3 separate regions of the Homo sapiens genome follow, and regions 1 and 3 are each reported to be linked to region 2. The links are microRNA targets in miRTarBase. Many come from high-throughput screens and were not tested one by one. Region 2 holds a microRNA gene; each other region holds the end of a gene's coding sequence.

Region 1 (3,000 bases), not on the chromosome of region 2:
AGTCGACCCCATTTCCCCTTCTGCTGCAGATGCTGCTCGGTTCTCTTGTCCCCCCAACTTTACCGCGAAGCCCCCAGCCTCAGAGTCCCCTCGTTTCTCCTTGGAGGCGCTGACGGGTCCAGATACGGAGCTGTGGCTTATTCAGGCCCCTGCAGACTTTGCCCCAGAATGGTGAGTGGTCTTGTTGACGGAAAAGAGGGTCCCGGTCCAGACCCCAAGAGCGGGTTCTTGAATTTGTCACAGGAAAGAATTAGAGGTGAGTCACAGAGCACAGTGAAAGAAACAAGTTTATTGGAAACTACTCCTTTACAGAGTAGAGTGTCCTCAGAAAGCAGGGGGAGAAACCCACAGCCCTTTGTTAGTATTTCTACTTATAAGAAACTATAAGGAACTATAGTTAAACTTGGAGTGTGCAGATAAGCTCACTAAAGGTAGGGGCTATTGGTGTTATCCACGACCATTAATCCTGCAACCTAAGCTTGCTCATTTATGTTATATTTAAGTAATGGGGGCTGCATTCTTAGGACATTTGGACATTCTGCAGGCTTGGTGGAACATGTTCTGTATGGCCATAAATATTCTGTAATTATAATTGGTGGTCAGCCTGGGATGTGGTTATTTTCAGGCCATAAGCATGAACCTTGTAAGTGCCTAGCTACTCACTTTAAGATGGAGTCACTCTAGTCATGTTTTATTAAAAACCAGAGGCCAGCCAGGCGCAGTGGCTGGTGCCTGTAATCCCATCCTTTGGGAGGCCGAGGCGAGCAGATCACTTGAGGTCAGGAGTTCAAGACCAGCCTGGCCAACATAGTGAAATTGTCTCTACTAAAAATACAAAAATTGGCTGGGCGTGGTGGCAGGTGCCTGTAATCCCAGCTACTTGAGAGGCTGAGGCAGGAGAATCGCTTGAACCCAGGAGGTGGACATTGCAGTGAGCCGAGATCATGCCACTGCACTCCAGCCTAGGCAACAGAGCAAGACTCTCTCAAAAAAAAACAAAAAAAAAATCAAAAAACCTTCCCTCTCCTGTTCCACTTAAGCCTCTGCCCTCCCTGTTTCTCTCTGTAGCTTCAATGGGCGGCATGTGCCTCTCTCTGGCTCCCAGATCGTCAAGGGCAAATTGGCAGGCAAGCGGCACCGCTATCGAGTCCTCAGCAGCTGTCCCCAAGCTGGAGAAGCGACCCTGCTGGCCCCCTCAACGGAGGCAGGAGGTGGACTCACCTGTGCCTCAGCCCCCCAGGGCACCCTAAGGATCCTTGAGGGTCCCCAGCAATCCCTGTCAGGGAGCCCTCTGCAGCCCATCCCAGCAAGTCCCCCACCACAGATCCCTCCTGGCCTGAGGCCTCGGTTCTGTGCCTTTGGGGGCAACCCACCAGTCACAGGGCCTAGGTCAGCCTTGGCCCCCAACCTGCTCACCTCAGGGAAGAAGAAAAAGGAGATGCAGGTGACAGAGGCCCCAGTCACTCAGGAGGCAGTGAATGGGCACGGGGCCCTGGAGGTGGACATGGCTTTGGGGTCGCCAGAAATGGATGTGCGGAAGAAGAAGAAGAAAAAAAATCAGCAGCTGAAAGAACCAGAGGCAGCAGGGCCTGTGGGGACAGAGCCCACAGTGGAGACACTGGAGCCTCTGGGAGTGCTGTTCCCGTCCACCACCAAGAAGAGGAAGAAGCCCAAAGGGAAAGAAACCTTCGAGCCAGAAGACAAGACAGTGAAGCAGGAACAGATTAACACTGAGCCTCTAGAAGACACAGTCCTGTCCCCGACCAAAAAGAGAAAGAGGCAAAAGGGGACGGAAGGGATGGAGCCAGAGGAGGGGGTGACAGTTGAGTCTCAGCCACAGGTGAAGGTGGAGCCACTGGAGGAAGCCATCCCTCTGCCCCCTACGAAGAAGAGGAAAAAAGAAAAGGGACAGATGGCAATGATGGAGCCAGGGACGGAGGCGATGGAGCCAGTGGAGCCGGAGATGAAGCCTCTGGAGTCCCCAGGGGGGACCATGGCGCCTCAACAGCCAGAAGGAGCGAAGCCTCAGGCCCAGGCAGCTCTGGCAGCTCCCAAAAAGAAGACGAAGAAAGAAAAACAGCAAGATGCCACAGTGGAGCCAGAGACAGAGGTGGTGGGGCCTGAGCTGCCGGATGACCTTGAGCCTCAGGCAGCTCCCACATCCACCAAGAAGAAGAAGAAGAAGAAAGAGAGAGGTCACACAGTGACTGAGCCAATTCAGCCACTAGAGCCTGAACTGCCAGGGGAGGGACAGCCTGAAGCCAGGGCAACTCCGGGATCCACCAAGAAGAGGAAGAAGCAGAGTCAGGAAAGCCGGATGCCAGAGACAGTGCCCCAAGAGGAGATGCCAGGGCCGCCACTGAATTCAGAGTCTGGGGAGGAGGCTCCCACAGGCCGGGACAAGAAGCGGAAGCAGCAGCAGCAGCAGCCTGTGTAGTCTGCCCCCGGGAAACTGAGGAACTAAAGAAAGCTGAAGGTGCCCACCTGGGCCACCAGAAGGTGACACCCCCAGAATCCCTCCCCAGAGACTGCACCAGCGCAGCCAGCAGGAGCCTGGCCTGGGAGGACGATTTATTATTACACTGGGGGTTTCCTTGGCAGCTGGGGTCATCAGGGTACTTTCAAGAAGGGCTCGTGCAGGACATCAAACAGCCTCCGGGCCTGGATGGGAGGGAGAAAAAAATGAGGAACCAGTCATTAAAGGAGCTGTTTCCTGGGTAAATCTAGAGTGGGGTTTTGGTTCTTTATTTTCCCCTATACCCTCAAGCATTTATCCATTGAGTTACAAACAATCCAGTTACAATCTTTTTAAGTTATTATTATTATTATTATTTTTTTTTTTTTTGAGATGGAGTCTCGCTCTGTCGCCCAGGTTGGAGTGCAGTGGCGCAATCTCGGCTCACTGCAAGCTCCGCCTCCCGGGTTCACGCCATTCTCCTGCCTCAGCCTCCTGAGTAGCTGGGACTACAGGCCCCTGCCCAGCTAATTTTTTGTATTTTT
Region 2 (3,350 bases):
GAGAAGCTCTTTCATTGAGATAATTCAAAGAAAACCATGTTTATCCAATGCATTTTCCAAAAAAGGAAAAGCCTTGGCGAAGAATTTGGTTTATTCTTCTCAGAACCTAACAAAATGGGGAAATGTCCTTGATTAATTTTGTGTGTTTATAAATTAAGGTACCTTAAGTGGAACAAAGAAATACCATTTATAAATAGAAAATGTATTACAAATATGAAAGTCAATTAAGGAAATACAAAATAAATCTTTGGAAATGACTTTCATATTTTTCTCACAGCCTACCAAAATCCATGGCCAGGAGATATGTAATATATACTTGGCAGAACTTGCCTTTATAGCTTAATTTTCTGTGCCAAAGATACAGGCCTTCAGAATTCTTGTTGAGAAAATAAAAAGTAATTGTGAAATGGTTCCTCTGGCCTAAGGGATGACAACATACATCAACACCATTATACCCTCCCTACCCACCCACAAAAGTTTTTAAAGAGTATAGAACAAACAAACAAGCAAATACAACCTTAACCAACACCAGCTCAACAGATATAGTCTATAAATTAATTATCAGCAAAGGTACAAAGTATGCAATAAAGTACTTAACAATATACATTTTATTTACCTCAGTTTCTCTACTTCTCTACATCTTACCAGATGGGTTATTTGAAAGAACTCCAATCTCCTACACAAAAAAGCAGGACTCTGGCAGATTGCTAACTAGAGATTTTTGGCCCTATAGGCAAGCATCTGTGAGTGGGGCTGTGTGGGAAACAAAAATATGTTGGAAAAAGAGTTGATAGATGCCCCAGCATAAATGAGGACCCAGCAAAATCCATACTCCTGTCATGGCATCTCTGTCCATCCATTTCTGTTAGTTACCAAGGAACTAGCCCAGAGCAAGGGCAAATGGACCACAATAGCTGGAGAAGTGGGAGAAAAGGAGGTATACCTTGAAGGAGTAAACAGTTTTGGATTTGTACAATGTTTTAAAATCATTAACAGAGACATCAAATCATTAGCTGTCAACCTGGTTCAACTTACTTAGAATACGTGTTTTTTTTTTTTTAATCCCATTGGAACAGAAATGCAATATAATCATGAATTTCATCTCTTATTCTTTATGTCTATAATAAATTTTGTTTTTTCTCTGGAAGTCCTGCATAAACATAAATGGTATTCCCTCTAAATTGCAGTTATTCTCACAGCCTCTGAAACCAAGTATGGGTCGCCTTCCCGTTCTGCACCAGGTCTCACCCACGCTTGATTTCATGGGCCAGGAGAGCACATCTGGCAGATCTAACAGAGGTCTGAAGTCAGGACAGTTAGCTAGAAGGTGATAAAGGAGTAAAGCAAGAGAAGATACAATAAAATCTGTTGTATAAATAACATTTTATGTAAGAACCAGCAAATATAACTCAGGGGAAGACATTTTCAGTGCAATTTTCCATTCGGATTATCTGTACTGTATCCAAGATAATATGTAGCGACAGGTAAACATTCAACAATTCTTTCAAAATCTATTTTGTATATATTTCTTTACTGTCAATTTTCGATCATCTGGAAAATTCAACTATACAGTCTCACCCAGTGTACTTTACACCAATCGTTCTGGACTTAAATGTCTTTCTCCATCATCAAATTGTATTGACAAAGTATGCAGTTCAAGAAAGCCCTTCTAGTTTTTATGAGGTACCAAAAGGAAAATACATAAAATTACAATCTAAGATACCCTGACAACACAAAAATCCACAGAATTCTTTCTTGATACCTAAAACTTCGTATGACAAATTTGGTTTTATAAAATGTAGAGCTTTCAAAAAAAAAGCATACCATAACATTTTAAGAAATTCTAAAGTCTTGAGTAATTTGTTAATTTAGGATCTATAAATTTGTATCACAATTTTCCAACATTAAAAGAAAAATGAAAGCTAAGTAACAGACAAACCATGTTGGCATGATACTTTTAAATTTGCAAAATGCAATTATTGTCCATATAAGATTACCAAATAAAAACAAAATCAGAGTCATAGCATAGCAGAACTGAAAAATACCTCGAAATAAGCTCATAGCCTAATCCCAATAATTTAGAAATGGCAAAACAGGAGTTCTTGACCTTCATTTTAACCTGAGTTTGGAAATGCATCACTAGAGGTTGCAGGAATCAGTGACTTGCGTCAGCTCAATGTGACCAAGCTCTATGCCTCCACATATCCTCCAACAAAAATGAGAAGCTAAGGACATTTCATGACTGATCCTGAGAGTGGCCCAGAAACCTCTTTGCTCCATTGCCTCCCTGCACCTGTTCAGTTCCATTTCTACCTGGTTCCCTGCTCAGCTTCATCTCATTGCCATCAACCCTTGCATCAACACTTAAACTTGGTGTTGCCATTCTGTACCCTAGCTTTACTCTTCAGTGATCTTTTTTTCCTTCCTGAGACAGAAAGACTCATCTTGTCTGGGCCCCCCTATTTACCATAATCACCATGCCTCCCCCTCCCACCTACCTCACGAGCTCAGATCTTGGTGTCCACACGGAGCCTCTCTAGTATGCCAGCCTTGACAGACAGCACCATTGTTAACAATTTCCAGTTCTTTACAAGGTCATTGGATTTAACTCTTCAAAGCACTGTGCTTTAATTTCCGAGTGGCACTTTACCAACATTAACTTCTTTGTGGAAAGTTTTACATCAAGGTAGCATTTGCTCAAAGGGCATGGGCCACATAATAGGGACCTTCCAAGGGACCTTCATTAATGCATAGTGTGGGGTAGAGGAGTGGAACTAGTGATACAACAGATGAAAAGGAACTTTCCAAGTGGGCAATTAAAACAGGGCATTCCAAAGAGAAAGAGAGAAAGAGAAAGAAGGGTGAGCAAGTAAGAAGTATGGAAGATCCAGGAACTCCTGGAAGTTCATTATCACCAGAGAACAGGTAAAAGGGGGGACCTGGTGAGAGATCCAGAAAACTGAGGAAAGATCGGACTTGCAGGGACCATGTTGTCAAAGGCCATGCGTGAGTGCCAGGGAATTTGGATGTTTTCTCGGTAAGTGGTGAGACAGCAGAGGCTAGTTAGAAAGCTGTTGCCATTTTCATGTGAAAAATGAGAGTATAAAATCAGACTTGTGGCAGTGAAGATAAAAACAAACAAACAAACAAAAAACAACAACAACAAAAAACAATGAACACCAATAGAATTTGAGGATTGGATGTTGAGGAAGAATGCACGAGGACTCATGGGTTTCCAGCCCCCTGAACGTGGTGGTTATGACACCATTTACTCAGAGGTAAGGAGAAATCATAAAGAGATTTAAAGAAGGTAGGAAATTAGCTCAATTTTAACCATGGTAAATTTGAAG
Region 3 (3,000 bases), not on the chromosome of region 2:
AATTACCATTTTAACATGTAACCAGTATTTCAAAATGGAGACTTTTTTTTTTTTGAGACAGAGTCTTGCTGTGTCACCAGGCTGGAGTGCAGTGGCACAATCTCAGCTCACTATGACCTCTGCCCTCCGGGTTCAAGCGATTCTCCTGCCTCAGCCTCCCAAGTAGCTGGAATTACAGGTGCATGCCACCACACCCGGCTAATTTTTTGTATTTTCAGTAGAGACGGGGTTTCACCATATTAGCCAGGATAGTCTCGATCTCCTGACCTCATGATCCGCCCGCCTTGGCCTCCCAAAGTGCTGGGATTACAGGCGCGAGCCACCACGCCTGGCTGAGACATTTTTCATTCAAACTTTTAGATACTAAGTCTTTGATATCTGATATCCAGTGTGTATTTTATAGCACATCTCAATTTGGACTAGCCACATTTCGAGTATTTAATAGCTACATGTAGCTAGGAGCTACATATTGGACAGTAAAGGTCTAGAGCTTTGCTACTCAATGTGTAGTCCACAAATTAGAGGCACTTTCAAAATATTTCTGCTCATAGACAATATACCTGATCACCCAAAAACTTACAAGATGAATGTTGTTTTCATGCCTGCTACCATAACACCTATTCTGCAGCATATGGATCTGGAGTAATTTCAACTTTCAGGTCTTATTATTAAATACATTTCACAAAGCAATAGCTGCCATAGACAGTGACTTCTCTAATGGATCTGGACAAAGTAAATAAGTAAATTAAAAACCTCTTGGAGGCCAGGTGCAGTGGCTCACGCCTGTAATACTAGCACTTTGGGAGCTGAGGTGGGCAGATCTCTTGAACCCAGGAGACCAACCTGGGCAACATGGTGAGACCCTATCCCTACAAAAGATACAAAAATCAGCCAGGTGTGACAATGGCATGTGCCTGTAGTCCCAGCTACTTGGGAGGCTGAGGTGGGAGGACCACCTGAGCCTGGAAGGTCGAGGCTGCAGTGAGCTATGATCACACCACTGCACTCCAGCCTGGGCAACAGAGCAAGACCCTGTCTCAAAAAACAAAACTAAACTTTCCCTCCTAGAAAAGACTCACCATTCTAGATGCCATTAAGAACATTTTGTGATTCATAGGAAGAGGTCAAAATATCAACATTAGGGCCGGGTGTGGTGGCTCACTCCTGTAATCCTAGCACTTTGGGAGGCTGAGGCAGGTGGATCACTTGAGGTCAGGAGTTCAAGACCAGCCTGGCCAAGATGGTGAAACCCCATCTCTACTAAAAATATAAAAATTAGCCAGGCGTGGTGGCATGCGCCTGTAATCCCAGCTACTTGGGAGGTTGAGGCAGGAGAATCACTTGAACCTAGGAGGCAGAGGTTGCAGTGAGCCGAGATCATGCCATTGTACTCCAGCCTGGGCCACAGAGTAAGATTCTGTCTCAAAAAAAAAAAAAAAAAAAAAAAAAAAAAAAAAAAATCAACATTAACAAGGGTTTGAAAGAAGTTGAATCCAACCCTCATGATTTTGAGGGGTTCAAAACTTCAGTGGAGGAAGAAACTGCAGATGTGGTAGAAATAGCAAGAAAGCTAGAAGTGGAGCCTGAAGATAGGACTGAACTGCTGCAATCTCATGATAAAACTTGAAAGGATGAGGACTTACTTCTTATGGATGAGCAAAGAAAGTAGTTTCTTGAAATGGAATCTACTCCTGGTAAAGATGTAACCATTGTTGAAATAACAAAGGACTGAGACTATTACATAGACTTAGTTGATAAAGCAGCAGCAGGGTTTGAGGGGACTGACTCCAATTTTGAAAGAAGTTCTATTGTAGGTAAAATGCTATCAAACCACATCGTGTGCTCTAGCAAAATCTTTTACAAAAGGAAGAGTCAATCAATGTGGCAAACTTCATTGTCTTATTTTAAGAAATTTCCATAGCCACTCCAACCTTCAGCAACCACCACCCTGATTAGTTAGCATCCATCCACCAACAAAGGCAAGACCCCCCAACCACCAACAAAACGAATGTAACTTGCTAAAGGCTCAGATAATTGTTAGCATTTTCTTTAGCAATAAAGTATTTTAAAATGAGGGTATATACATGTTTTTTCTTTTTGGAGATAATGCTATTGCACATCTAAGAGACTGCTATATAGTGTAAACATAACTGTTATATGCACTAGGAAATGAAAGAGTCTGGTGACTCACTTTATTGCAGTGTTTGCTTTACTGCAGTGGTCTGGAACCAAACCTGCAGTATCTCTGAGTTATGCTAAGCTGCCTTGTTAGTTCACCTGGCCTTCCATCCCAAACCGTGTTATTTCCTGTGGCTCCAGTCTATAATCCACAAGCAGAACTTAAGGACAGCAAAAATGTTTATTTGAAAAAATTACTATGTATTGAAAATATACATTAGAAATTATTACATACTTCCATAGCATTCCCCTCCCACACCACAAAAGTAGAAATATCTGCTTACTATGCTAATGCCATAGGTAAATTCAAACAAAAAGTAAATCATCCTCAGTCTCCTTTACTCAAACACTAGAGCTGGGGGCCAGAGAAAGGTCAACTTGTATCTACTAATCAATAGGAATTTAACAAGTCCCAGTCTTCCACAGCAAGACATACATATTTCTGCTTTGAAGGTTGTGAAGAGTTATTCTGTTCTGTCTCTGACTCCTCAAAAGGTCTCTTCTTGCTCTTCTTTGACTCCTGGCTTGAGATAGCTTCGTGTTTCAACACTGGCCCATGGCAATCTGGGGCTTTCTCTTTATAGAACTGGAGTTTCTCGGAAGAGTTCATGTGGGTGTCTGCCAGGGGACACTTCAGTGGGGCTTCTGCTCGAGACCGCTTCCCATCTGTGACAGAAGGGAGGGATGATGAGTTCACTACACTGGCATATGCTAATTCCCTCATCAGTCTAGGATAAACCCAGGGATATGACAAAGGCCCAAACAGGGTGATATCTGCATTGATTGCATTTTGCCTTGAGTGCCCTGTGAGGTCGCTGTGGT

What was found. The annotated mature microRNA hsa-miR-551b-5p reads GAAAUCAAGCGUGGGUGAGACC and lies in region 2 at 1,241-1,262, opposite strand. An mRNA with a match to its seed (bases 2 to 7 or 8) in the 3' UTR can be bound and repressed. Matches are read on the target gene's strand: a 7mer-m8 pairs with bases 2 to 8, a 7mer-A1 pairs with bases 2 to 7 and ends in A, and an 8mer does both.
Region 1: miRTarBase lists ERCC1 as a target of hsa-miR-551b-5p. Seed matches in the 3' UTR shown: 7mer-m8 at 1,005-1,011.
Region 3: the mRNA of LRRC42 is a reported target of hsa-miR-551b-5p. Seed matches in the 3' UTR shown: 7mer-A1 at 2,497-2,503.

What each region holds. Positions count from the first base shown.
Region 1 is chr19:45,407,065-45,410,064 of GRCh38, forward strand. ERCC1 (ERCC excision repair 1, endonuclease non-catalytic subunit) reads right to left here. Exons shown (of 10, transcript NM_001983.4): 10 at 270-2,661. The coding sequence ends at 2,611. It overlaps POLR1G (RNA polymerase I subunit G), which reads left to right. Exons shown (of 3, transcript NM_012099.3): 2 at 30-171; 3 at 1,069-3,000. The coding sequence ends at 2,437. Among named protein-coding and RNA genes, the nearest start is that of POLR1G, 1.9 kb to the left of the region's middle.
Region 2 is chr3:168,549,787-168,553,136 of GRCh38, reverse strand. MIR551B (microRNA 551b) reads right to left here and starts at 1,283; the gene lies at 1,188-1,283. It also overlaps the pseudogene EGFEM1P.
Region 3 is chr1:53,967,509-53,970,508 of GRCh38, reverse strand. It overlaps LRRC42 (leucine rich repeat containing 42), which reads right to left. Exons shown (of 9, transcript NM_001256409.2): 9 at 2,341-2,844. The coding sequence ends at 2,570. Among named protein-coding and RNA genes, the nearest start is that of LRRC42, 23 kb to the right of the region's middle.